Linked DNA regions of Homo sapiens: all the other regions are linked to region 3. Evidence: fine-mapped expression QTL. A gene starts in region 3. Each other region holds a variant in brackets. All regions are shown on one strand. Distances are between the middles of the regions.

What was found.
Region 1: its variant is fine-mapped to the expression of ACCSL in whole blood (INTERVAL, PIP 0.91).
Region 2: its variant is fine-mapped to the expression of ACCSL in cerebellum (GTEx, PIP above 0.99).

Annotation. Positions count from the first base shown.
Region 1 is chr11:43,870,074-43,878,367 of GRCh38, reverse strand. LOC105376644 (a long non-coding RNA gene) reads left to right here. Exons shown (of 3, transcript XR_001748200.2): 2 at 292-385; 3 at 3,439-3,964. Among named protein-coding and RNA genes, the nearest start is that of ALKBH3, 6.6 kb to the left of the region's middle. The variant A/G (reference allele first, on the strand shown) is at 3,261.
Region 2 is chr11:43,914,969-43,923,262 of GRCh38, reverse strand. ALKBH3 (alkB homolog 3, alpha-ketoglutarate dependent dioxygenase) reads right to left here. Exons shown (of 10, transcript NM_139178.4): 9 at 4,127-4,225; 10 at 2,989-3,345. The coding sequence ends at 3,253. It overlaps ALKBH3-AS1 (ALKBH3 antisense RNA 1), which reads left to right and starts at 2,319. Exons shown (of 6, transcript NR_038907.1): 1 at 2,319-2,389; 2 at 2,799-2,877; 3 at 3,601-3,677; 4 at 6,342-6,594. It also overlaps a transcript of ACCSL not described here. RefSeq lists an enhancer at 1,838-3,037. The variant A/G (reference allele first, on the strand shown) is at 3,362.
Region 3 is chr11:44,042,905-44,051,198 of GRCh38, reverse strand. ACCSL (1-aminocyclopropane-1-carboxylate synthase homolog (inactive) like) reads right to left here and starts at 3,218. Exons shown (of 14, transcript NM_001031854.2): 1 at 2,659-3,218; 2 at 1,078-1,137; 3 at 577-647. The coding sequence starts at 3,162.

The sequences.
Region 1 (8,294 bases), 170 kb after region 3:
CAGCTTATTTGGTGGATTTATTGAAGATTTAACTCAACAGTAGTCTATGGTTAATCCTACTGAGATGCCAAGGCACGATGTAGAGGCGGGAACCCAAAGACTGAGAAGGGTAGAAATGTTGGACTGAATTTATCAAATGTGACCCTGACCCACGTGCAATAGACACAAACACAAAAACTATATCCTACAACAAGATCCAGAAGATGCTCCTTTTTCTAAAGCATTGAGAAATACTTTAGACAAGGGAGCACTTGCATCCTTGGAAAGCTCTGTGGTTGCTCTCCTTTGCAGGCCAGGTGTGATCATGGAAGATGCCACCATTGAGTTGGGTCCCCTGGTTTTACTGGAGATGATGAGGCCAAGTGGCAGCACTTAATTATTAAAGGTAAGGACATTGATCCAATACAGAAGCCAGGACATACCAGTAATCAGAATATGTTGGTCTATAAGGATCTTTGGTAGTGGCCATGGTGTCCCTAGGAATGAAACAGATGGGCAGCCTACTAGAGAATTGTTTGATCTATCTAACAGAAAAAAAGTCTATGTCTAGTAGCCAAAAACCTTACCTGGCCACACTGGATAGACATATCTCTCACCTAGTTTCCAGACAAGTCATATCACGACCCCAAACCTCTTGATTGACAGGGAAGCCACATCTCTTGGAGGAAGGACCCTGCACCATTGTCACAAGTATATACTGTAAATTTTCCTCCAAGTCTTTTTTTTGAGACAGAGTCTCGCTCTATCACCCAAGCTGAGAGCAGTGGCGTGGTCTCGGCTCACTACCAGCTCCGCCTCCTGGATTCATGCCATTCTCCTGCCTCAGCCTCCCGAGTAGCTGCCTGCCACCACGCTCGGCTAATTTTTTGTATTTTTAGTAGAGATGGGATTTCACCATGTTAGCCAGGATGGTCTCGATCTGACCTTGTGATCCACCCACCTCGGCCTCCCAAAGTGCTGAGATTACAGGCATGAGCCACCGCGCCCGGCCCAAGTCTTCATCCAAGTGAATGCAGCCATTTACTCAAATGGTTACACACTGGGGAAAAGTAAGTACCCAGGTATTTTAGGGTTTACTGGGCAATGGCTCTTAACTAATTCCTGGGAACCTAGAACACCTCTATGGCCCACGAATGAAAGTGAGGGCTTAATGATGTTCAAGTGATAGATGGAATCTTAGTTCAAGTTTGACTCACAATGGACCCAGTCATCCACAGATCCATCCAGTGGCTACTTCCCCAGTTCCTGAATGTATATGGATGCTCCCTTGACTTATGATGGGGTTCTATCCTGATAAACCCATTGTAAGTTGAAAATATCATAGGTCAAAATGCATTTGCTACACCCAACTTATGGAACATCACAGTTTAGCTTAGCCTGCCCTAAACATACTCAGAACACTCACATTAGCCTAAGCTGGGCAAAATAATCTAATGCAAAGCCTGTTTTATAATAAAGTGTTGATATATCATGTAATTTATTGAATACTGTACTGAAGTACAGTTTCTACTAAATGTGTACCACTCTTCCACTATCGTCAAGTCAAAAAATCAATGGAACCATCATAAGTCAGGGACCATCTATAGTTGGATTAGTTATATTTGGCAACTAGCAGAATCCCCAAATTGACTCTCTGACCCACAAAGTGAAGGCCAGTTGGTAGAAAAGGCTACCTGGAAACTCCAGGAACTTCCCCTCCATACCAAGATAGTAAATACTAGCAATACCACATTCCTGGAGGAATTGTAAAGATTAATGCCACAATCAAAGACTTGAAAGAATCAGATGATAATTCTATCACATTCTCATTCTCATTTAATTTACTGTTGGCCTGTGCAGAAGTCAAACGGATCTTGAAGAGTGATTGTCGGCTGTTGTAAATTTAATCAGGTAGTTACTCCATGACTCCAATGCAGCTGCTGTCCCACATGTGCTATCTTTACTGCGGCAATTAACATAACCTTTTGCCTTTGGTAGGCAGCTCTTGACCTGGCTAATGCCTTTTTCTCTATATTAATTTACAAGAAACTTTCTGCCTTGGCTGGGTGCGGTGGCTCAGGCCTGTAATCCCAGCACTTTGGGAGGCCAAGGCAGGCACATCGCCTGAGGTCAGGAGTTCAAGACCAGCCTGGCTAACACGGTGAAACCCCATCTCTACTAAAAATACAAAAAATTAGCCAGGCGTGGTGGTGGATGCCTGTAGTCCCAGCTACTTGGGAGGCTGAGGCAGGAGAATGGCGTGAACCCGGGAGGCAGAGCTTGCAGTGAGCCAAGATTGTGCCACTGCACTCCAGCCTGGGTGACAGAGCGAGATTCCATCTCAAAAAAAAAAAAATACAAAAAATTAGCCAGGTGTGGTGGTGCACACCTGTAGTCCCAGCTACTCGGGAGGCTGAGGCAGGAGAATTGCTTGAACTAGGGAGGCAGAGGTTGCAGTGAGCCGAGATCATGCCACTGCATTCCAGCCTGGGCGACAGAGTGAGACCCTGTCTCAAAAAAAAAAAAAGGAACATTCTGCATTTACTTGGCATGGCCAACAGTATACTCTCATAGTCTTGCCTCAGAGATACCTCAGTTCTTCTGCTGTCATACTATAGGTCCACCTCTCATCCTGACATCCTACAAAACATCACTCTAGACAACAATAATGACGACATTGTGCTGATTGGATATGGTGAACAGAAGGTAGAAAGTGTTTTAGATGCTTTAGTAAGACATGTGTGAGCTAGGTGTGGTGGCTCATACCTGTAATGTCATGCATGGGCCAATAGGCCCATGAACAGAGTAGTCATGGTGGCAGGGATGGAGGATATGCATGGGCTCAACAATTTGGACTTCCTTTTCTCAAAGCTGACCTGGCTAATGCTACTGCTGCATACCTAACCTACAAATAGCCAAGACCAATACTGAGCCCTCCATATGTCACCATTTGTCAGGCGACCGTCCAGCCACTTGTAGCAGTTTGATTACATTGGACCTTTTCCATCATAGAGAGGGTGGAGATTCATCTTCACTGGAATATATTCATATTCTGGATATGGGTTTATTTATCTTCCTTGTATGTACTGCTTTGGCCAGCACCACCATCTGTGAACCCACCAAATGTCTTATTCCCCTTCATGGTATTCCCTGATCAAGGAACTCATTTCACAGTAAAGGAAGTACATCAATGGGCTTAACTTCTTACCCATTGGAAACAGTTTGGCTAATTGAAAGATGGAGTGGCTTACTGAAGACTTAGTTATGGCCCCAATCAGGAG[A/G]CAGCCCCTGAAAGGGTAGAGTTCTGTATTATTGGATGCAGTTTATACTTTGAATCAGAGATCAGAATATGGTGCTCTTTCTCCCTTAACCAGAATACATGACGCTGGGAATGAGGGTGAAAATGAGAGTGACCCCCTTCAGTAATATAATTATTAACCCACTTGCTTCCTGTCCCAGCAACACTGAGCAGTGCTGGTTTGAAGGTCTGCTTCCTCAGGGTGTGAATGCTTACACAAGGACTATGTCTGGAACCAAAAGGATTTTCTCAGGTGCCTCTTGGTACTTTGTGTCCAGTAAAAAAAAAACATAAAGAAAACTACAAAAGCAGCAACAACAAAACAGCAGAATGATGAATAACTTGGATTAAGAATGAAGATTTGTGTTGTACCGTCAGGTAAAGAAGTCAGTGAACTGAGGTTCTGGCTAAGGGCAAGGGAAATATGGAAGAAGCCACCTGTGATGTTATAACCAATAACAGAAACAAAGACTGTATGAGCTTTGTATGTTTTCTCTTTGCTAGCTATATGTATGTGTTTTGTACATGAAAATCATGTTCTTCTCTCTCCATTATTTTATATTTATGTAGTTGGAGGTTACATTTACAATTTAGTTTCTATGTAGCAGAACATTCAGTAGGATTATGATTGAATTTGAAGACTATTTAATACGGTCAGTAGTAGATATGGTGACTGTTGGAAGTTCATTTGGGGGGAAACAATGAGAACGCCTTCACTTCTGTGAAGGATAGCTGTATCTTGGTAGGTGGAAACAGATGTTGTGTTGATCCTACAGAAGTTGAAATGTGTGTAGAAGGGTGGTGCATATGGAAACTGAGTAGCTGAAGGAGTGGACTCTGAATCATCAATCCTTATTAACTCTCAGCTCCAAATCCATCCTTTATTGCCTGCTTGTTATACTGGAACATTTTTCCCTTGCTAGCTGATTCAATAGTAAGCTTCATTAGTCGATAGTCCTGAAGAGACCCTGAAGGGGGAAGGGGCTCTTTAAAAAATTTTTTTAATTAGCCCTTATAAAAGAGGAAGAGGCTCTTTTTCTTCTATTCTCTCTCTCTCTCTCTCTTTCTGACAGAGTCTCGCTGTCACTCAGGCTGCAGTGCAGTGATGCAATTTCTGCTCACTGCAACCTCCACCTCTCGGATTCAAGTGATTCTTCTGCCTCAGCCTCCCGAGTAGCTGGGACTACAGGCGTGCACCACCACACCCGGCTAATTTTTGTATTTTTAGTAGAGACGGGGTTTCACCTTATTGGCCAGGCTGGTCTCAAACTCCTGACCAGAAGAGGCTCTTTTCCATGGTTCCTGTGTGTTCCTCTGTACTAGGTTGAATAATATCCACCCTCAAATTTATGTCCACTCAAAACCTGTGAACATGACCTTATTTGGAAGTAGGGTCTTTCCAGATGCAATCAAGTTAAGATGAGGGCAGAGTGAATTAGGGCAGGTCTGAATCCAATGACTGCTGTCCTTATAAGGAGAGGGAGATTTGGAGACAGAGGGACAGAGAAAGACAGGCAAGGACGCCATGTGAAGGTGGAAGCAGAGCTTGGAGGGATGTTGCCACAAGCCAAGGAGTGTCTGGAGCCACCAGAAGCTGGAAAAGGTGGGGAAGGATCCTCCCTCAGAGCCTGTAGAGTGCACATTCCTGCCAATACCTTGATTTGGGACTTCAGGTCTCCAGAACTGTGAGAGGATGGATTTTCGTTCCTTTAAGCCACCCCATTTGTGGTAATTTGTTATGGCAGGCCTAAGACATGAACACATCTTTTCAGCCAGCTCTGCCATGCACCATGGCCAGCAGAGCTTGGTGCCTCCCCTTGGCAACTTCCCAGTACCACAGTTAGTTCTCTTGGTGCAGCTCGCCAGCAAACTTCGCCATCCAGCAAAACACCACCATGTCTCCTCCAGCGAGGTTTGGATCCTTAACCCTGGCAGATGGGAGCTGTTTCAGAGTTGTTTCTTCCTCGCTGTTCTGCCTCAAACTAGAGGTAGAGGCTGCTCCCTGCATCTGTTACACCAGCGTGAAAGGAAAATAAAATCTCGGGACCCTAATTCACTCTGCCAAAAGGAAAAATTAAGCTCAAAGCTGAGTCATGCAAGAAGCTGCCTTTCCTTTTGTTCCCCAACAGAGAGCTACCGATCAAGGTTAAATATCTGCATGGGTAGCTCCTCTATGTTCACCCTATCTAATGTAAAATGCCAATTTACTGGGTGTGAGATGAATACATAATTGACTATTCCCCTACCTGCTCCTTTTCTCTAGTATCGTGGATCACCAGACCCTCTCTCTTTCCCCTCCAGCACACTTTTCCCCTTTAACTATTAAAGCCCTCAAAATCATCTTTGGAGAAAGGCACAGACCACAGACTTTCTGTTATTCCATGTTCTTTTCTTCCAGATGTGTTCTTAACCTTGGCAAAAATAAACCTCTAAATTGATGGAGACCTGTTTCGGATACTTTTTGGCTTACGCTTGTGTTCTTAGAGTTCTCTTTTTCCCTTTGTCAGTAACCCTCTATTATGGTTAATAATTCTTTCTTTCTTTTCTTCTTTTCTTTTCTGTTCTTCTTTTCTTTTCAACAGAGTCTCGCTCTTTTACCCAGGCTGGCAGGCTGGAGTGTGGTGGTGCAATCTCAGCTCACTGCAACCTCCATCACTTGGGTTCAAGTGATTCTCCTGCCTCAGCCCTCCGAGTAGCTGGGATTACAGATGTGCACCACCACGCCCAGCTAATTTTTTCTTTTATTTTTAGTAGAGACAGGATTTTGCTATGTTGGCCAGGCTGGTCTTGAATTCCTGACCTCAAGTGATCCACCCGCCTCGGCCTCTCATGGTGCTAGGATTATAGGCGTGAGCCACCGCGCCCGACCTATTTCTTTCCTGTCCAGATGATTATGTAGCTTCTGTCTCCTGATTGAGTCCTGATGGTTGCAGTGGGAATGTGGCATCAGGAGTTGAAAGCAAAGGCTAACTGCCTGGGCCCCGGGTTGGCCTCTGTACATCACTGATTTGCCTCTGAGTTGGGTCCTTGCTCTCCTAGCCCATCACTTACGTATTGCTTGCTCCTCCTAGTTTGTCCTCATCCAAGACTGCCTTCCTAAAGTAGATGTTGCTGGTTGCTTTGCTACTTTGAAGCCAGCATTTCTCAGCATGTGGTTGGAAGGGTAACTGCATGAGAATCACTAGGGGATGCTGTAAAAATGCACATTCTGGGAGCCCATCAGGATTCTCAGTTAGTAGGTCTGGGGCAGGGCCCAGCAATGTGCATTTTTTTTTTTTTTTTTGAAACATAGTCTCGCTTCGTCGCCCAGGCTGGAGTGCAGTGGCATGGTCTTGGCTCACTGCAACCTCCGCCTCCTGGGTTCAAGCAATTCTCCTGCCTCAGCCTCCTGGCTGCCACACCTGGCTAATTTTTTGTACTTTAGTAGAGACAGGGTTTCACTGTGTCTTGAACTCCTGACCTCAGGTGATCTGCCCGCCTCAGCCTCCCAAAATGTTAGGATTACAGGCGTGAGCCACCCGCACCTGGCAGTAATTTGCATTTTTAACAATGCTCTGTTCCATTTTGCAGGTACCTGCACCATATTCTGTATCCTTTCCCTATGTCTGTTTTCCAGAGGTGATCACTTCCCACTCAACAGTTATCTCATACCCTGGATGGCAAAGCTGATAGATGCTTTAAGTGCTGGTAGCTCTTAACAGTGATTCTGAGTGAGCTACACCCTGTAGCCTATTTTCAGTTGCCGATTTTCACACCACTCTCTTGCCAAGCGTTCCCTGTTTCAATCATGTGCAGCTTGTGGAGTGCCTGCTGCTGTATTCCTGAGAAAATCCAACCCAAGGAAAATAATGGCACATCATGCTAATAGCTCTCAGTGAAGGTGTTGCATAGAGAAATTCCCAGCCTATGTCTCACTGCCAAAGGTTTAGCAGCTCCCAGCTTGAGCAAGGAGGGTGGGAAGGGAATCTGCCAACCCTGCAGCATGTTTGCTATGAGGCTTTCAGCTCTCTGCCAACTTTCAACAACATTGAAGGGTAGAGGACATTTCCCCAGACTCCAGACAGGAACACCTTCTGTTCAATGCCCAGCACGATTGTAGATGCTGCAGGAGGTAAAATCTCCATCCAGTGAACCACAGGGTAAACTGTGTGAGATACAATTAAAAAACAGTGTAATTGGATGTGAAATTATGGAGGGCAGACAAAAATTTGGGGAACAAGAGATCACTAGAGGTTATAGTCATTAGCAAAGTCACTATGGAGTATAGGGAATTATGTCAAGGTTTTAAATTATGTAGCATTCAGACAGCTTGAAGATATTCTGATAGTTACATTATCCCTAAAAGGAGTAGGCAACATTTACACATTCTTATTTCTAAATAATAGCAAATAATAACATTAGTTAACATTTCATGAGCACTTCTTACATGCCAAGTGCTGTTCCAATCACTTACATGCCTACACTGATCTAATTTTTTTTTTTTTTTTTTTTTTTTTTTTTTTTTTTTTGAGACGGAGTCTCGCTCTGTCGCCCAGGCCGGACTGCGGACTGCAGTGGCGCAATCTCGGCTCACTGCAAGCTCCGCTTCCCGGGTTCACGCCATTCTCCTGCCTCAGCCTCCCGAGTAGCTGGGACTACAGGCGCCCGCCACCGCGCCCGGCTAATTTTTTGTATTTTTAGTAGAGACGGGGTTTCACCTTGTTAGCCAGGATGGTCTCGATCTCCTGACCTCATGATCCACTCGCCTCGGCCTCCCAAAGTGCTGGGATTACAGGCGTGAGCCACCGCGCCCGGCCCACTGATCTAATTTTAAGAACCCAGTTACACAGGCATTATTATTATTAGACCCATTTTACAAAGAAGACTGAACCACAATGCCACATGATGCCACCGTGCCACCTCTCTGCAAATACATGCCAGAATGAAAGCCAAATTAGGAAAGATAGGACTGTTCCTAAAATGACATGAACCATTTCTTGGGACCTCATTGCTGGTGTCTTTCAGTGACTTCAAAAAA
Region 2 (8,294 bases), 130 kb after region 3:
ATTCCCAGCAGGGCAGGAACCCGTCGTTTGTCAAGACTTTCTCTGAAACCCTCCAACTGGAGCATTCAGCGCACTGCAGGGCCTACTTAACTCTTTCAGCATTGCAATGACACAATTCAGGAGACGGCTCTATAGTGACTGTGTCCAGACAGACCTGCCACGCACTAGGGCAGGATCACATCAGCCACAGAGGCAGAGAGTGGGTGCCACAAGGAAAGGGCAGGTTTATTAGCTGTGACTCAAACTTATCAGGAATTGTCAATGCCACCCGAGCTAGTGGGTTAATGATGGATCAATGTGGATCCTGATTTCAACACTGGGGATGCAATCTGGTGCTAAGTGTGTGTTCCAACCCATGTTTGAAGCAAGTTGCCTGTTATAAAGAAGACATTTTTAGTGTGGAGCCTGATGTTTCTTTGGGCTGCTGACTGGAGTAATGGTGTTGGTAAGTATTGTGAAAAAGCCTGCTATGAGTTTGGGTGTCATTCAGGGTCCCCAAGTGTATTCACAGGTAAGAATGAGGTGAGAAAGGACCACCGGGGAAAACTTATCTGTCTCTAAAAGTTTCATATCTCTGAAGGTGGATATGGTCAGGAAACACTTGCCAGAAAATCAAGGAAAGTTGGCTGAGAATTTGTCTAACTCACCAGAAGTTGGATTCTGTCCCCTCAAAAGGAGCTTCCCCAATGAAATGGGCAACTGCTAGTCCAGTCACCAGCAGTTTCTGGCTAGAGGATGCTGATGCTGATTAAGGAAAGATGAGATGCAGATGCCTGCCCTGATGAACAGGAAAGTCAGGGAACAAACAGGTGGCCTGTGGTCAGCTGTGACCAGCTCCACAGGAGCCAGCCCTGAGGCTCAGGCTCCCGGGAGTGCTCAGCAGACCATTTCGCCTACATTCAGCATGGCAAAGGGAAACCAAACAGGCCGAGAAACTAGCCTGCAGTCTGCAATCTGGTTCTGCCACTACAAGCCCTGTTAACTTACCTAACGTCTTGGAGATCAGTTTCCTAGCCTCTACAATGGGAATAGGACCTCTCTCTTGCAGCGCTGTGGGAAGGATAAGGGATTATGTATAAAAGCTCCTAGGACAGTGCCTGCTGAAGCTCAGAAGAAGGGCAGCAAAAACAAAACCGAAACCTGTTTTTCTTCATGCTACCGCTGTTATATTTGCTTCCTCAGCTTTACACGCGATGTAAGCAAAAACAGCTTCACCTCTAATTCCTAGTTCAGATCTAGCACCAGCAAAACAAAGCAACAGGCTGCTGCAGTCACTGAGGCACACTGCCCTTTGCCATGGTCTGGAATTCCTGTCCATGCCTACACCCTGTAGTTTTACTCTATGGCAAGTACCTACTTGCCATTTCAGAAGGGACATTATCTTAATGGTAAAGAAAAGGGCAGTTCTGGCATGTGGTATCTGGAGTGACAGCAAGAAAAACAAAACTGAAGATTTGCTGCTCTCAGACCAAGAAACCCAGGTGGTGGCCCACTCCATCTGCTGTAGAGTAGAAATGTTTCCCTGGAAGACATGGGTGTGACAAGTGAAGAGATCAAATGCACAGCTGCCACACGGGGAGATCATGACCCTCCATTAAGAAAGAGGGACGCTGGAAGACTTGGAACCATCTGCCAGTTCTTTCATTAGTAAGGAATGGAAGATAAATTTCCTAGTGTCATGCATCAAACTGATCACCAAAGCTGGCTGTATCACCTGGCCAGGTATTATTTGCATTAATAGGAGAACAGCTAAGCATTGAAAAGAGGCTTTATTTTATTCCTATGGTGATTTGAACCTCCCTCACAGGAAAGCTTGGTGTGGTGCTCAAATTTTAGAAAGTATTTCATATTTCTTAGAGAAACAAGCCGTGCTCATTTTTTGTTTGTTTGTTTTTTGTTTTTTAAAAGGGCAGGGGGACTACAATGCCAGGAGCCAGAGAGCTTGTCAGAGAACAGCCTGGCCAGGCATGGTGCTCCATCTGAGTGCCGAGTCAGAGCATGCCCAGCCTTTGGCATTTTCCTATGATCATGGACAGCATCAATCTTACAGCCTGGAATGGAAACAGGATAAAAAGCAAGAAGGCACTGTACCTTTCCCCCACTGGCAGACAGAGAAACTCTAACTCTCCCGCCCTATTTTCATCCATTTAAATTCATTTCCTTTCTCTCAGGTTTTCTGTATCTTGGTTTGGAATGAATCTGGTACACGGCTCCTGAGTCAAGAGGTCAAGAAGACACGTGGTTTTATGATGCAACAATGGGCAGCCACTCTGTTTTGTTTTGGGAACCTCAGTGACATCACAGACTAACCCTTGTACCTTGGGACCTTGTATGTAAGAAAACATTGAGTCAGAAGAGAGCGTTAGTCATAGGGCTACTGAAACACAAGGTGACGAGAACTATTAGGCAATTGAGTGCATTCCCTGCAGGGCTGCTCCCACTTCTATCTGACTTGGGTCTAGATGACTCAAGTGATTCCCGAGGGGAAAATAATCTATGTGGAACAGCTGTCATGAGCAGGCCTTCTGCTGCTCTTCAGCCTCAATTTCAGCCTGCTACTTCCCGTGACATCATTCAGTGATTCCTCCCTTTAAGGGGACAGTTTTCTCTTGTATTACAGGTGACTACTTGAAGGTGGCTAGACGAGAGCATACTGCCACCACTCTTTATTTGGAGGCCTGTAACCTGTCTTGAGTGTGTTGCAGGAAGACTCAGTTACAGTGTTCCCTGAATATGTAGCTTTCCATTACAATAGTATGCAAGCCAAGATGAAACCACCTCTGTTTGGGTTTCAGCAGCTGTCTGCCTACGGAAGGCTCCAGAGTCCCTGACGCATATTTATATCTCCACTTCACTGAAGTCACAAGGAACAAACACGTGAGATTTTCTTTTCCCCAGAGGCACAAGTCCATTGATATTTCTTCAAATGAAGGCGGGGCGTGTGGGGGGCGGGGGAGGGCAGGAGGAAAACTGCTTAGAACAAAATCATCCATGAGCACTGCCACATAGATTTTAATTTGCCTAAAGATGATAGCGATTTTGAGCTGTGGTTAGGGATAACTGTTCCCACAGTAGACCTATTACCAACATGAGTTGCTGGCTTTCATTTAATAGGACTCCAAGCTGGCAAACAAACCCCACCATCTTCCCAACAGCCACATCATGAGATCTAGCAGCACCAGCCTCTTGAAGTGGCTTCTCAGTGGAAGGTTTGCTCCGTTTCAGTGAAGCTTCTCTCTCAAAGCTCTGACGTCACCAGGGTGCCCCTCGAGGGTCTGGATAGACTGTCCGAAAGGTCAGGTTCACTCTCGGTTCTCTAGAGTGGTATTCTTTGGGCACTCGATGCTAAATGGAAATACAC[A/G]TAACTCTGACATAAATACACACATACACACTTTTAGTTCAAAGCGACTTAAAACTTATTCATGAGAATGCAGAAATATTTCCATCTCATCCCCCTTAAATGAGTAGTAAGCTCTTTGAAGTCTTGTGGAGAAAGGTCCCTTCTTTGAAACAAATTTCCATCCCCAGCCCCACTGTGCTATGCCAGCACCTCTGAAGTGAGATATTTTCATCTTTTCTAATTGTTGCTGTTCCTCTCAGACACCTGCCATTTCCCAAATCTCATAAAACATATAAATGGATGAGACCAAAGAGAGGCATGAGATTCCATTCTTATGGTAAGTGTTTTGACATTAACATGTGCACCTTAGAAATGATCTGGCCTAAAAATGGCATGGCCTAGCTGCAGAGCTGTGTATTCCAATAAGATAGTCACTAGCTACCCTGAAGCTATTTAAATTTAAGTTAATTAAAATTAAATTAAAAACTCAGTTCTTTATAGCATGCAAGCCACATTTTAAGAAGTCAGTCATATGTGGCTAGTGACTACTACAATAGGCAGCACAGATACTGAACACTTTCATCATCACAGAAAGTTCTACCGGACACACTAGTGTCCACCTGGATTGTCAGTAGTAGCAAAACTCCTTGGAAAGAATGTCAGCTCATTCCCTCTTGCTCGTTGTAAAAGCAGCTTGCTTTTCACCATGTCTACTTAGAAATAGTCCTCAGAGTCAGGAAACTGCCTCCACATGAAAGCAGATTCATATTACTTGCAGATCCTCACCTGCCAGTCAGCTTGTGTCGCTCCTTCCATGATTAACAAGGTCCCATGATCCAAGGGTATCTTCACTCTTTCCACATATGTGTAGTCTCCATTCTCTTCCTAGAAAACAGCATTTGTTGTAATAAATGTTTTGCCTGTGTAATCAAGATGCAACAGAACCTGACAGAGGTCAAAAAAAAATGGAAACCTCTGCTCAGCCAGACTGTGGGAATCCATATATAGCTCTGTCATTTGGCAGCTGCTTGACTGTTGGCAAGTTACCTCATCTCTCTGTACCCTGACTTACTCATTTGTAAAATGGGGAGGATGACAGTGACTGCCACCTAGGGCTATGGTGAGCCTCCATTGATAGAATATGTGTAAATCCCTTGAAGATTGGCATGCAGTAAGTGCTAGCTATTAGTGTCATCATCATAATCCAAAATGCAGAAAAGCCCATTCTGGCCTAAGAAGGAAATAAAAGTCACCTGTACAAGAATTCTTTACATCTGACTGATGTTGTGCTCTACATTTTGACATACTCAGTGTGGGAAAAATGTCCTTTTAACCAAGATTTGATGCGATGACTTCCTTCACCTTTTCACAATGTATGCTAATTTACTAATTGGCACCTATAGTCTCAATTCTTCTCATGGCTACTATGGAGTTTTGGAGACATATTCCTGCCTCTTTCCAGAACAGACAACAGCAAGATTTTCTCAAAGGGAGCTCTGGCTTGACCAAAACAGTGCTGTCAAACTGAGATTGGCTGTTTACATCTTTGAGGATGGATCACGACTCCTGTACACTTAGGATACAAATGCTTTGTATTTACACAGAGAGCTCAAAAGCAATTTATGTCCAATATTCTCAGGAGTCTTCAGAGCATAAGCTGCAAAGCAATTAACTGGTAGTGTGGCTCCTCCACAGCTGAAAACCAGGAGCATTAAACAACTTCTGTGCTCACAGCAACAAAGAGCATGTCAAGTGCTGAGACTGGGACAGATCTGAGCTTCCTGATTTCTTCACCTCCATTCTGGGCAGAACTGATGGGTCTATTCATTCATCTGCTTCACTTCCGGTAGAAAGGGTTACATTTGGGTTACTGCAGGATTGATTTCAGTGCAAACTGTGTTTATGTTTATTACTGTATGGGTGCTTCTGAGAACTTAACTGTTTACAAAGATTTTCCCTAGGAAAATCAAAATCAAAACAATCATGAACTTGCATAAACAGTCTAAGTTCCAGGCCCCAACTTTTGGCAGTAACTTTGTCAAGCATAGTCATAATTTTTATAGACAGAAGATAGAAGCAATGTTTAAAATAACTTTGGTTTCAGTGATTGATTTTAATTGTGTCTGCCACCTTTTCTCTTCCAGTAATAAGTGGGCACCAAAACATTTACCTTTGACCCCTCAGACAACCAGAGGGCAGTGGGAAGGTGACCCTGCCCTCACTGCAGCCCAGCTCCATCTCAGAAAAGCAAAACGCTGCTCTGATTTAAAAAAAAAATCCAGACAGAGGAGACACATGGTCCTACTGGGGAAAAGATATCCGGAGGGAGTGCACTGACCATGAGATTAGACAGTCCAAGGCTCCTTAATTTAGGCTGTATAGTCAGCTATCAGATCAAGGTTCAACACAGCTAGAAGCAGAAGAATTTCTGCTACCCTCTACATAATCAGAGAGTGCAACATGGGCTTAATCTACAAATCAAGTACAGACACTAAGGAGAATAAAATAAAGTAGAAAGGAAAGACACTTAACCACAACATGAAGGCAATTCTGAGATGAAGATCTCCTAGAACATTAAAAACACTGTTGGGGAGAAGGAGGTGCTAGATCAGTGGAAGAGAATAGGTAAACACTATAGTTCCACCTGGAAACATGAAGCAGGAATCCACCTCACAAGTGAAAGAGAATTCCGAAATGTATCAGCACTGATGGAAAGTGATGTTCAATGATCACATTTCACATACTGTTCCTAAGATCTGAACTTTTCAAATGAGAGAAAGTCTCAGGTTGGTTTTGAACACATTACATTCAACATAACCATTAGCCATACCAAAAAGCAGACAAGGGTGAGCCTTCGTTTGGGAGGGAGCCACTCGAATCAGTCCACAAAGGAGACACCCTTACACAGTGTACCCTCTGTGAGAAGTGATATCATTCTTTGCTGCTTGTTATTTATTCCTTCTAAGATCTTTGACTTAGAAGATGCATTCCTAATTTGCAGAAGGAGACAGACAGGAAAGAGGGCAAGGGATCCTACTAATGCAACACAGAGCTCACAAATGCATCCTTCCCTCGAGGCCAGAGTGGCAACAGACCATAGAGCCACCCTTCAACTGAAGCAAGATGCCCTTCAACTGAAGCAAGATGCATGGAGACTGTTTCCACTTAGGAGTCAGATAAAAGGCCAGAGGAACCCACATGGCTGTGCATAAAGGCTCCAGTTGATAAATGGATAAGCAACAGTGGAAACACAGGTCAGACTGTTTAGAAGAGTGCCTTCCTAGTCATTAAGCGTGGTTAAGTTACCCAAACACATCTCTGTAGCCCTTTTGATTTACTCAGGGTTTTCTTCAAAACAAAACAAAACACACCCCCCAAAACCAGGGCTAAGGATAAAATTTTCCATCACTCATCCTGGTTAAAAGCAGCTTTTAGGGTCACACTCAAGCTACAGGGTGGGTTTTGTTATTGATGTTCTTGGTTTTCCAAATACTTGAAACCCTACGAGTACATGGAAAAAGCGAAAAACATGTATTTTTATATTAATGCTGATCAACATTCTCATTCCTCCAACCGCAGCCAGTTCATTTGAAGGCTTAATTATGCTTTTCTAAAGCTTCTCACAACTCTTACCTCCACCTCACCAACATATCCTATTCAGTTTCCTTTAAGAAAATGCTATTTGGGGTGAAAAAATCTGGATGTATTTACTGTTATGTCATTATTAACCATCCAACAGATGGGAAACCTAAACATTTTTCTTTCCATTGGAAAGGTAATTCATACTGTATGAGATTTGGAGTTTTCTTAAAATCATCCCTTTCTTGTCCTAAAAGAATGTCTTAGAAATTACAAACAATCATCAATGCTTTAAAATCATCATACAGGTTTTCCTTCTAGAATATAAAAAGTAACATAAGTTTACTAAAGTAAATGATGCACTTGTAATTATTTATTCAACCTCTGCTCTTATAAACTCCATGAGGGAAAGTTTATGTGGTCTTCCTGTTAAGAAACATTCTCAGTGCCTATCACACATATGAATAAATATGTACTGAATGACTGAGGAAGAGTACACAGAAAATGTAGAAAATCGCCTGTAATCCTATCATCCAGAGTTTATACAACATACACACAGAGTCTTCCAGATATACAATCGTGTGTACTCCATTTTTAATATTTTATTGAGCATTTTTCTATATCTTTAAATATACATTTCAAAAATATGGTTATAGAATATTCCTTTGTATGAACATATCCTTCCTTTAAACTCACAAATACCTTTTGACCACCTGTATATATCAGGCATTATGCTAGTACTAAGGATGGAGCAGTAAGGAGCACATGGTTGGAGATTGATTTTCATACACCAGTATTTTTTTTTAAAAAGAGGGAAAATAAATAAAAAGCTGCTGCAAGCAGATTTTTGGGCAAAACATTTCTGCATATATTTCTAGGATATATTCTTAAAAAATGGAATTACTGGAGCCAAGTGTATGAACTTTAAGGCACTTGATTTATATTACCAAACTGCTTTCTTGAGAAGGCTGCAGCAATCTATAATCTCACCAGGAAAACATGACAGTACCTATCTTCTGGCTGAACATTATCAACTGACAGTAACGAAAAACAATTAGGGGAGAAATGACAACTCATTCAAACTTAGAGATCTTGGATTACAAGCCAAGTTCTTTTTTTTTTTTTTTTCTTTTTTTGAGACAGAGTCTCACTCTGTCACCCAGGCTGGAGTGCAGTGGTGTGATCTCGGCTCACTGCAACCTCCACCTCCTGGGTTCAAGCGATTCTTGTGCCTCAGCCTCCCGAGTAGCTGGGATTACAGGTGCCTGCCACCATGCCTGGCTAATTTTTTTTTATTTTTAGTAGAGATAGGGTTTCACCATGTTGGCCAGGCTGGTCTTGAACTCCTGGGCTCAAGTGATCCACCTGCCTTGGC
Region 3 (8,294 bases):
ATCAACTCCCCAAGTCACACAGACAATAAATGAGAGTTGGGACAAGAACTTAGGCCTTGGCCGGGCACAGTGGCTCATGCCTGTAATCCCAGCACTTTGGGAGGCCAAGGCGGGTGGATCACAAGGTCAGGAGATCAAGACCAAGCTGGCAAACATGGTGAAACCCCGTCTCTACTAAAAATACAAAAAATTAGCTGGGCGTGGTGGCGGGCACCTGTAGTCCCAGCTACTCGGGAGGCTGAGGCAGGAGAATGGCCTGAACCCAGGGGGCAGAGCCTGCAGTGAGCTGAGATAGCACCACTGCACTCCAGTCTGGGTGACAGAGTGAGACTCCATCTCAAAAAAAAAAAAAAAAAAAGAACTCAGGCCTTTTGAATTATTCCTACTATACCAGAATAACTATTCCTACTATACCAGGCTGCCTCCTGATGAAGTTTTGCTCTAGGCATTTTCTAGAAGTTATTACCCAAAGAGATAGGGAGGTAACCAACCAGGAATTTGGTGCCTTGAATCCTCCTTCTGGATAAGGACAGCTGCCTGTGGGACCAAGAGACTCTAAATCTGAAGGTCACTTACAATGGCTGCCCTCTCCAATCAGGGTACTGAAGCAAGGTGTCCTCAATGCAGTTCATGTCACTTTCTTGCAACTGTTGACAAATAGAACATGAAGACAGGTAGGCCAGGGAAGTTCAAGAGGCCTCATTCTACTCCTAGTTTGTACATGAGTGTTTGCCCTCCACATACATGACCTCCTAGAAAGGGAATGGGTATATACACTGCATGCTCCTTAATGAATGGAGGCTACCATCTTGTCATAAATTACACAAGTAGATACCTCACTGGGAAGTATTTGACCCAGAGGTTCCCATAGCAACTTTCCCACCATATACCTAATCAGAGAATATCTCTGGACAGTCAGCAAAGCCAGGAGGTTAAATGTGCTATTCTAGAAGCTATTTCTTCACTCCTCTTCCCAGGCTCCTATGTCTCACCCCTGTATCTACCATAGCTCAGGAGCACGCTAGGGGGACTAAGCCTTGAAGGGGTGGGTCCCAACACAGCCCAGAACATCCTTACTCTTTCAGTCATCAGATCCATGCAGAGCTTGTTCTCACTGGTGCCAAGGTTAATGAAACCCTGGAGATGGAAGGAATCCAAGATCAGGTCAGTCCTCTTGCTCCACCCTACATAGATCCCTTGAAACATTAGTTCAAATGGAGATCTCACTGCCTATGAGGCAATTCAATCCAAATTTGACAACTTTACACGTTAGGAAAGCTTTCCATGAACCCAAAATAGTACAGCTTGCAAATTTCCCCATTAGAGCCACATAAATAAGTTATGTCCTATCGACCAGTCATTGAGTTCTTATTATGTACCAGATACTAGACCAAGTGCTTCTTGTGAGTTGTCTTAATTCCTGAAAAGAAGGTTCTATATAATCCAGTTTAAAGAGTGAAGTTTAGAAAAGTTGAATAGCCTACTAGCCATGTGACCTTGGGTGAAAAGTAGAACTCTACCTACCTGACGCCTGAGCCTGGACCCTTAATCCCCAAGGCCCCATCTGGCACCTACCTCTGCTACTTCTCCTTACACATTAGGGCCTTCTAAGTTATTAGAGGAGAACAGAGATAGGAACAGAAGGGGAAGGTATAGCTAATGTCACCCTCCACCCTCTGGCTGGAGAGCTGCTAAGGACCCCCTTTCCTGGAAGCCTTTCATCAGTTCCCCATCGCCCTTAGGGTAACATTCCTTTTTTTTTTTTTTTTTTTTTTTTTTGAGACAGGGTCCCACTCTGTCACCCAGGCTGGAGTGCAGTGGCGCGATCTCAGCTCACTGCAACCTCCAGCTGCCGGGGTCAAGTGATCCTCCCACCTTAGCTTCCCAGATAGTTGGGACTATAGGTGTGTGCCACCACGCCTGGCTAGTTTTTGTATTTTTTGTAGAGATGAGGTTTCACCATGTTGCCCTGGCTGGTCTCGAATTCCTGGACTTGAGCGATCCACCAACCTTGGCCTCCCAAAGTGCTGGGATTACAGGCATGAGCCACCACGCCCAGCCTCTTAGGGTAACATCTTAACACCTCCCATCCACCTCTGTTCACACCTCCTGCCACAGCACCAGTGGTCCCTACTCTGGCCATTGGACCTCCTTTCCCAATCACTCCTAGCCCTTCGCATCTTGAAGGTTTCACGTGTGCTGTTCCTCCTGCCTGGAGGGTCATGGCCATGGCCATCACCACATGGCTGGCTGATTCAGCCTTTAAGACCTCTTCCCAGACCACCTGAAGTGGGCATCCCTTTCACGTTCTTGGGAAGATTATTAATGCCTGTGCCCCAGTGGCTGACTCCATTCATCACTACGCTAAGTTCTTTAACGGCAGGCTCATTTGTCCCTGTGACCACAGGGGCCAACTCCTAATAATTAAGAGCTGGGATTAGGGAGAGGGAGGGATGTGGGGGTGGATGGAGTTCTCTAACTTTCTGGGGCATGTCACTTTATTTCTGTAATTATTCCCTTATCTGCAAGATGACAAGAGTGCCCGTTTCATAAGGCTATAAAGAATGAGAGCATATATAGCACTTGGCCCAGGACTCAGTAAATCCAAGTGACTGGAGCCCGTGAGGATGCTGCCCACCCCCCACCCCAAATTCTCACCAAGGTGTTCTTGTCCTTATGATATTTATCTTTTTGGTAGGCATTGTAGTCCTGGAAGCTCGACTGATAAAAGACAGAGATGTCAATCCCACGGATGGATAGGTCGCGGTTGACAAAGGCAGCTTCACAATCACTCAGTTGGGGAACTGGATCAGGCTGCCCAGAGAGTTGGGCCCTCTGCCCATATCTGACATCACCCCTAGAGTCCTCAGAAGGAAGAGGCACTTGGAGCTCCAGGCCACTCGCGGCCCCAGACTGTAGGAGGTTGATCATCCGGCATATTAAGCGACTCAGAAGGGCTTCATGCTCACAGATGGCCTCAGTGTGCCTCCTTTCCTCCAGCGACAGGCCCTGTCTGCTCGTCAGCTGCACGAAGTGCTCCGTCATGGCCTGCTGCAAGTGCAGCGTTATCTCCAACAGCTGGGTATAGATGCTGTGGTCTCTGGGGACCCGGCCTCTCCTCTGACCAGAGGGCACAGGAAGGGTGTCTGACCGATGACTCATACTCCGGGTATCTTTACTGGCCTCTGAAGGCTGCCTGGCACCTATGGAGAAAGAGACCATTGACAATGGAGCAAAGGAGGATCTCCTGGACCCTCAGGTCCAGGAATGGATGGAGACAGAACAGATCTCAGATCTGTTCTTCTCACTTCCATGCCTTGGTTATATGACCAGATTGGTTCATGAAGAGTTACCTACTCTTTAGGGCAATGAGTACATGGCCTCAAGCCTAGACACTGAGTGCTCTATTTAAATGGCATTAGGATGTGTTCTGAGGAAGAGCAGGGGGATATGAACAAGGAGGCTCTGGATTTTCCACCCCGTTCTTCAACCTGAGCACTTCCTGCTTTGTTTGGTTAAATAGGAAAAAAGGGTTTCTACTGCTCAAAAACAATCACCATCACTACCCACTGAGTAAAACATTCTGCTAGAATAAACTAATGCCTGAGGGCCAAATCTGGCCTGCCACTTATTTTTGTAGATAGTTTTATTGGAACACAGCCCCATTCATTTATTTATGTCTTGATTATGGCTGCTTTTGTGTTACAATGGCAGAGTTTAATAGTCATGACAGAGACCACGTGACAGAGACCATGTGGTCCACGAAGCCTAAAATATTAACTGTCTGGCCCTTTACATAAAAGGTTTGCCAAGCCCTGTTGAAGAACATCAGCCCTTCTTTTTGCCTTTTCTTCTCCAGGTTGGCCATACCAGATACTCAAAGCCTTTAGATTCCTCAGTTCCTCTATCCTCACTTGGCTTCCTGCAAATGCCTTCCACCTACTCACTGTGACAGCTGCCTTAGGCTTCCATCACTTGTAACTATGGGCTAGGTACATGGCTCTCAAACTTTGAAGTCCATCAGAATCACCTGGAGGGCGTGGTAGGAAACAGATGGTGAGACCTCACCCCTGAATTTTGAGTCAGTATGTCTGGGGTGAGACCTGAGAATCCTCATTTCTAGCAAGTTCCTGGGACTATACTTAGCAATTTTGTTTTGTTTTGTTTTTGTTTTTTTTTGGAGGGACTGGGTCTTGCTCTATCACTCAGACTGAATTGCAGTGGCATGATTATGGCTTACTGCAACAAACTTCCAACGATTAGGATTAACCTTCCTTTTGAAAACAAGTTAAATACTGAACGAGACCAAAAAATACCTTTTAAAGCCTCAAAGAATCAATAAATCAGATAGCAAGATCCCAGAAGGTAGGAAAGCTTGAGGCCAACAGCTGCCACTACTTCTTTAAGACAATCCTTATATCCCAAGATATCAAGACCCTTTTTTCTAAAAATCTAGACCTATGCCCATTCCACCAAATGCTACAATTCCAAGTTTTTCCCCCTAAGTAACATCCCCCTACACACACACAAACACAAAAAAAAACCTCGTTGCTTCTTTTATAAATTTAGGGCACCAGTACTTCAGAGTACCAAACACTCTGTCCAACTTCTTCAAACCATGTTCAGTTTGCCTGTGATGTTCCCATTGCAACCTATACCTCACCTTAGTGACATTTAATATTGTTACTTGTTCAGTGTCTGCCCAGGTCAGCCTTCAGTATTACATTCTTAGCACAGTACCTTGGCACATGGGCAACTAACATAGTTAATGAGTAGGAGAGGCATAACCACAAGGATGTTGCCAAGTCAGGGAAGAGATGAGCCATAAATGAAGACTTTGGCCATGGAAGATGGAGCAATAGACAGAGAAAGCCACAGAACAAAGCTGTATCAAGTCTTGACTTACGATCCCAACCTTTAATCATAATGCAAAAACTTTATTCAGTGTTAGGAACATACTGATGAGAAAGAAATTGAACAAATATAAGTGTTTATGCCTAGAGAAACCGTCTCTTCCACAAGCAAGAACTTTGCCCTGGCCCAAATTCCCTGTCCTAGAAGAGATTCATTTTAATGGGGCTCTCAACTCTGTAGGTAAGTCACACTATCTTTCCAAATACTTGATTATCATAGAGCATTGCAAGGGCCAGGTGAGATTCCTTTGGTTTTGCCTTCCAAAAGGTGGTGCCTATCATCCCTGTTGGTCCTGCGGAGTGCTAGTGGAAAGAGCCAAGATCGGGGTGGTAACCTCCCTCCAATGAACAAGAAGCTATTGTCACCAGGCATCTTCTTCCTTTTCCCAGGACTGGAATTACACATTGAGTATCTTTGCCCTGTGTCACCTTAACAACAAAGTCAAAGATGGGACAGCTCTTTGGACAGCTCTGTAACATCAGCCAGCTCAGCCCATGGTCCCAGAATTTTAGTTATTCCAGTTCAGTTAAATTAGGGGCTCTTAGACTTCTTGCCATGGAAGTCCTTGCTGTTACCAAAGTCCCACTAGTCTGCCCCATATACCAAGCACTCAGCCGGGGACTCCAGGCACATAGGAAATAGGGACCAGGATGCGGCAGGGAAGCTGGAGGCCAGTGTGGCCTAGTAGGCAAATGGAGGAGGAAACTTGTTTAAAGTAGTTTGAATGAGAACCCCCCAGGGCAGATTTATATAGCAAACATGGGGGCCAAGGCAGGTAACTGAAAGTAATGCGTTTTCCTGGTAAAAATGTTTTGGTTTTTTTGTGGGGGGGGTTGTTTGTTTTTGAGACAGAATCTCACTCTCTCGCCCAGGCTGGAGTGCACTGGTGCAATCATGGCTCACTGCAACCTCTGCCTCCTGGGCTCCAGCGTTCCTTCCACCTCAGCCTCCTGAGTAGCTGGGACTACAGGCACATTCCACCACACCCAGCCAATTTTTGTGTATCTTTTGTAGAGATGGGGTTTCATCATGTTGCCCAGGTTGGTCTCAAATTCCTGGGCTCAAGTGATCCTCTCGCCTCAGCCTCCCTAAGTGCTAGGATTGTAGGCAGGAGCCACCATGCATGGTCCCAAAAATGTGTTCTCTGATAACAAAGTGAGTATGCAGCAAGGCCAGGAGTAAACCTAGAAGCTGGACTTCTGCCAAGACTCATCTTTCTATGGGAAAAGTCTATTGTAAATGACACCATTCCACAAAGGCAACAATGCCCCTATTCCTCAGCCCTAAGTTGTCTGGTACCGGGGGTATACCAATCCTCTCCTCAAGTCTCCTTGGCTATACCATTGGTTTCAGTATTCGTCAGCCTCCCACCATCTACCTTTCCATTCACCCGGGGGCCTTCTCTAGCAGCTAGAACCAGTATCCCAGGATCAGCCCAGTAGATGCTAGCAGCCTTTTGACAAGAGCTGAAAGACAGATCATGAACAGAAGTTGGGAAGGAGAAATGAATGTGGGAAATGAAGTGGGAACAGGCTGGCAGTTCACTTTTGATGCCAGCACATGGCTATACTGTTTACAGAAGGATACTTCTAATATCACTTTTTCTAGTGCCCTACAAGCCCTTATAACTCTTCCAGCCTTCCTTCTTCTTGCCACACACCAGCCTCCTCTGGTGTCTCAGTACTCTCACCTAATTCAGATTCTTCCTTCTGGGTATGGCAAGTATGATAGGGATTGCAGAATCGTCTTCATGTGCATGTAAGGGGAAGCAAGTTATTTGGGGATATAGATCCCTAAATACAAGGTGCAAAATTGAAAGCTCAAGTAGAAGTACCCTTGACAGGCCTAGGCTCTATTCTATAATTGCTGCTCACTAACTGTAGGATGTTGGAAGAATTACTTCCCCTGTCTGGGCATCAGTTTCTCCGTATGTAAGATGAGAAGAATGTGATGAAACTGAAGCCCAGTGAAGATAAGTACCTTCTAGGGTCTCACATTAGAGCCAGGATTTAAACCCCAAGCCTCCCATTTTAGCCCTAGGAAGCAGAGTGAACTAGTAGAAAACCAGTCCTTGCATGAACTCCAGCCTGGCTTCATGTCACATAATACCCAGAAAGTCTCAAGTTCTGAGATTGGGTTAAATCATACCGTATTTTGGTGACTCAAAATTCCAGGTAGAAGTAAGCAAACACTCTGGAAGCTGCTACCATAGAGTATATTTCTCAAAGCATTTTTAAAATATTGTGTCCAGCATATAGAAAATCAGGTACATAAATAAACAGCATGACCTAAAACCACCAGCACAGACAAGAGAAAGACCAACTGGTCTCCAGCTATTGGGAGTAGATTATAAAATAATTGCTTTTCTGTTGAAGGAGATAAAATCCAAGTTTAAAAATGGAAAGAAAATTAAAATTTATTAAAATAACAGATTTGAAGGAAAACAGGAGATCCCCAGAGGTTACAATATAAAGACCAAAAATTTAAAACCTCTAAAGATAAAATTACTAACCTGGAAGAAGAGGCTGAAGAAGCTTTCTGGAATAAGGCATGAAGACAAGAGAAAGTAAGAGAATATGAAAAAATCTAATACACACACAGATGTATTTTTTTGGAGTCCCAAAAGAAGAGAAAATGGGACAAAAATCATTTGAATAAGCTGTATCTTCAGTGCTAGATAGTTAGACATCAAAGCATGGATTCAAGAAGTCCAAATGCTAACTGGGATAAGGAAATCTACACTATATAGTGAAACTACAAAAAACAAGACAAAGATAACATCTCAAAAGCAATCCAGGAAAAAAATGTACCTTTCAAGGAATAACAGATCAAAAGCTAACTTCATCAACAGTGGAAACCTGAAGACAGTGGGATGTCATTTTCAATGTACTGAAAGAAAATAACTCCACTTAGAATCTTGTGACCATCACAGGATCAGTATTTCCACAGGCAATACCAATTCCTCAGACTAGTGGTTGCCAGGGGAGGCGTGTAGGAAACTGACTGCACTGGGGCCCAAGGAACTTTTCTAGGGAAATGGAGGTGATCTCTATTTGATGGAGTGGTAGGTAGATGGTGATAGCCATTTGTCCAAGCTCAAACGGTATACTTATGAATCTTATCAGACTTAAATAGATTTAAAATGTAGCTATAGCGAACTAAGTCTCTGCTAGAATATAAATAGCTAAATACGTTTATTTTTGAGACAGGGTCTCACTCTGTCACCGAGACTGGAGTGCAATGGTGCAATCAGAGCTCAATGCAGCTTCAACTTCCCAGGCTCAAGCAATCCTCCCACCTCAGCATCCCGAGTAACTGGTATCACAGGCACACACCACCATGCCCAGCTAATTTTGTTGTATTTTTTGTAGAGACCAGGT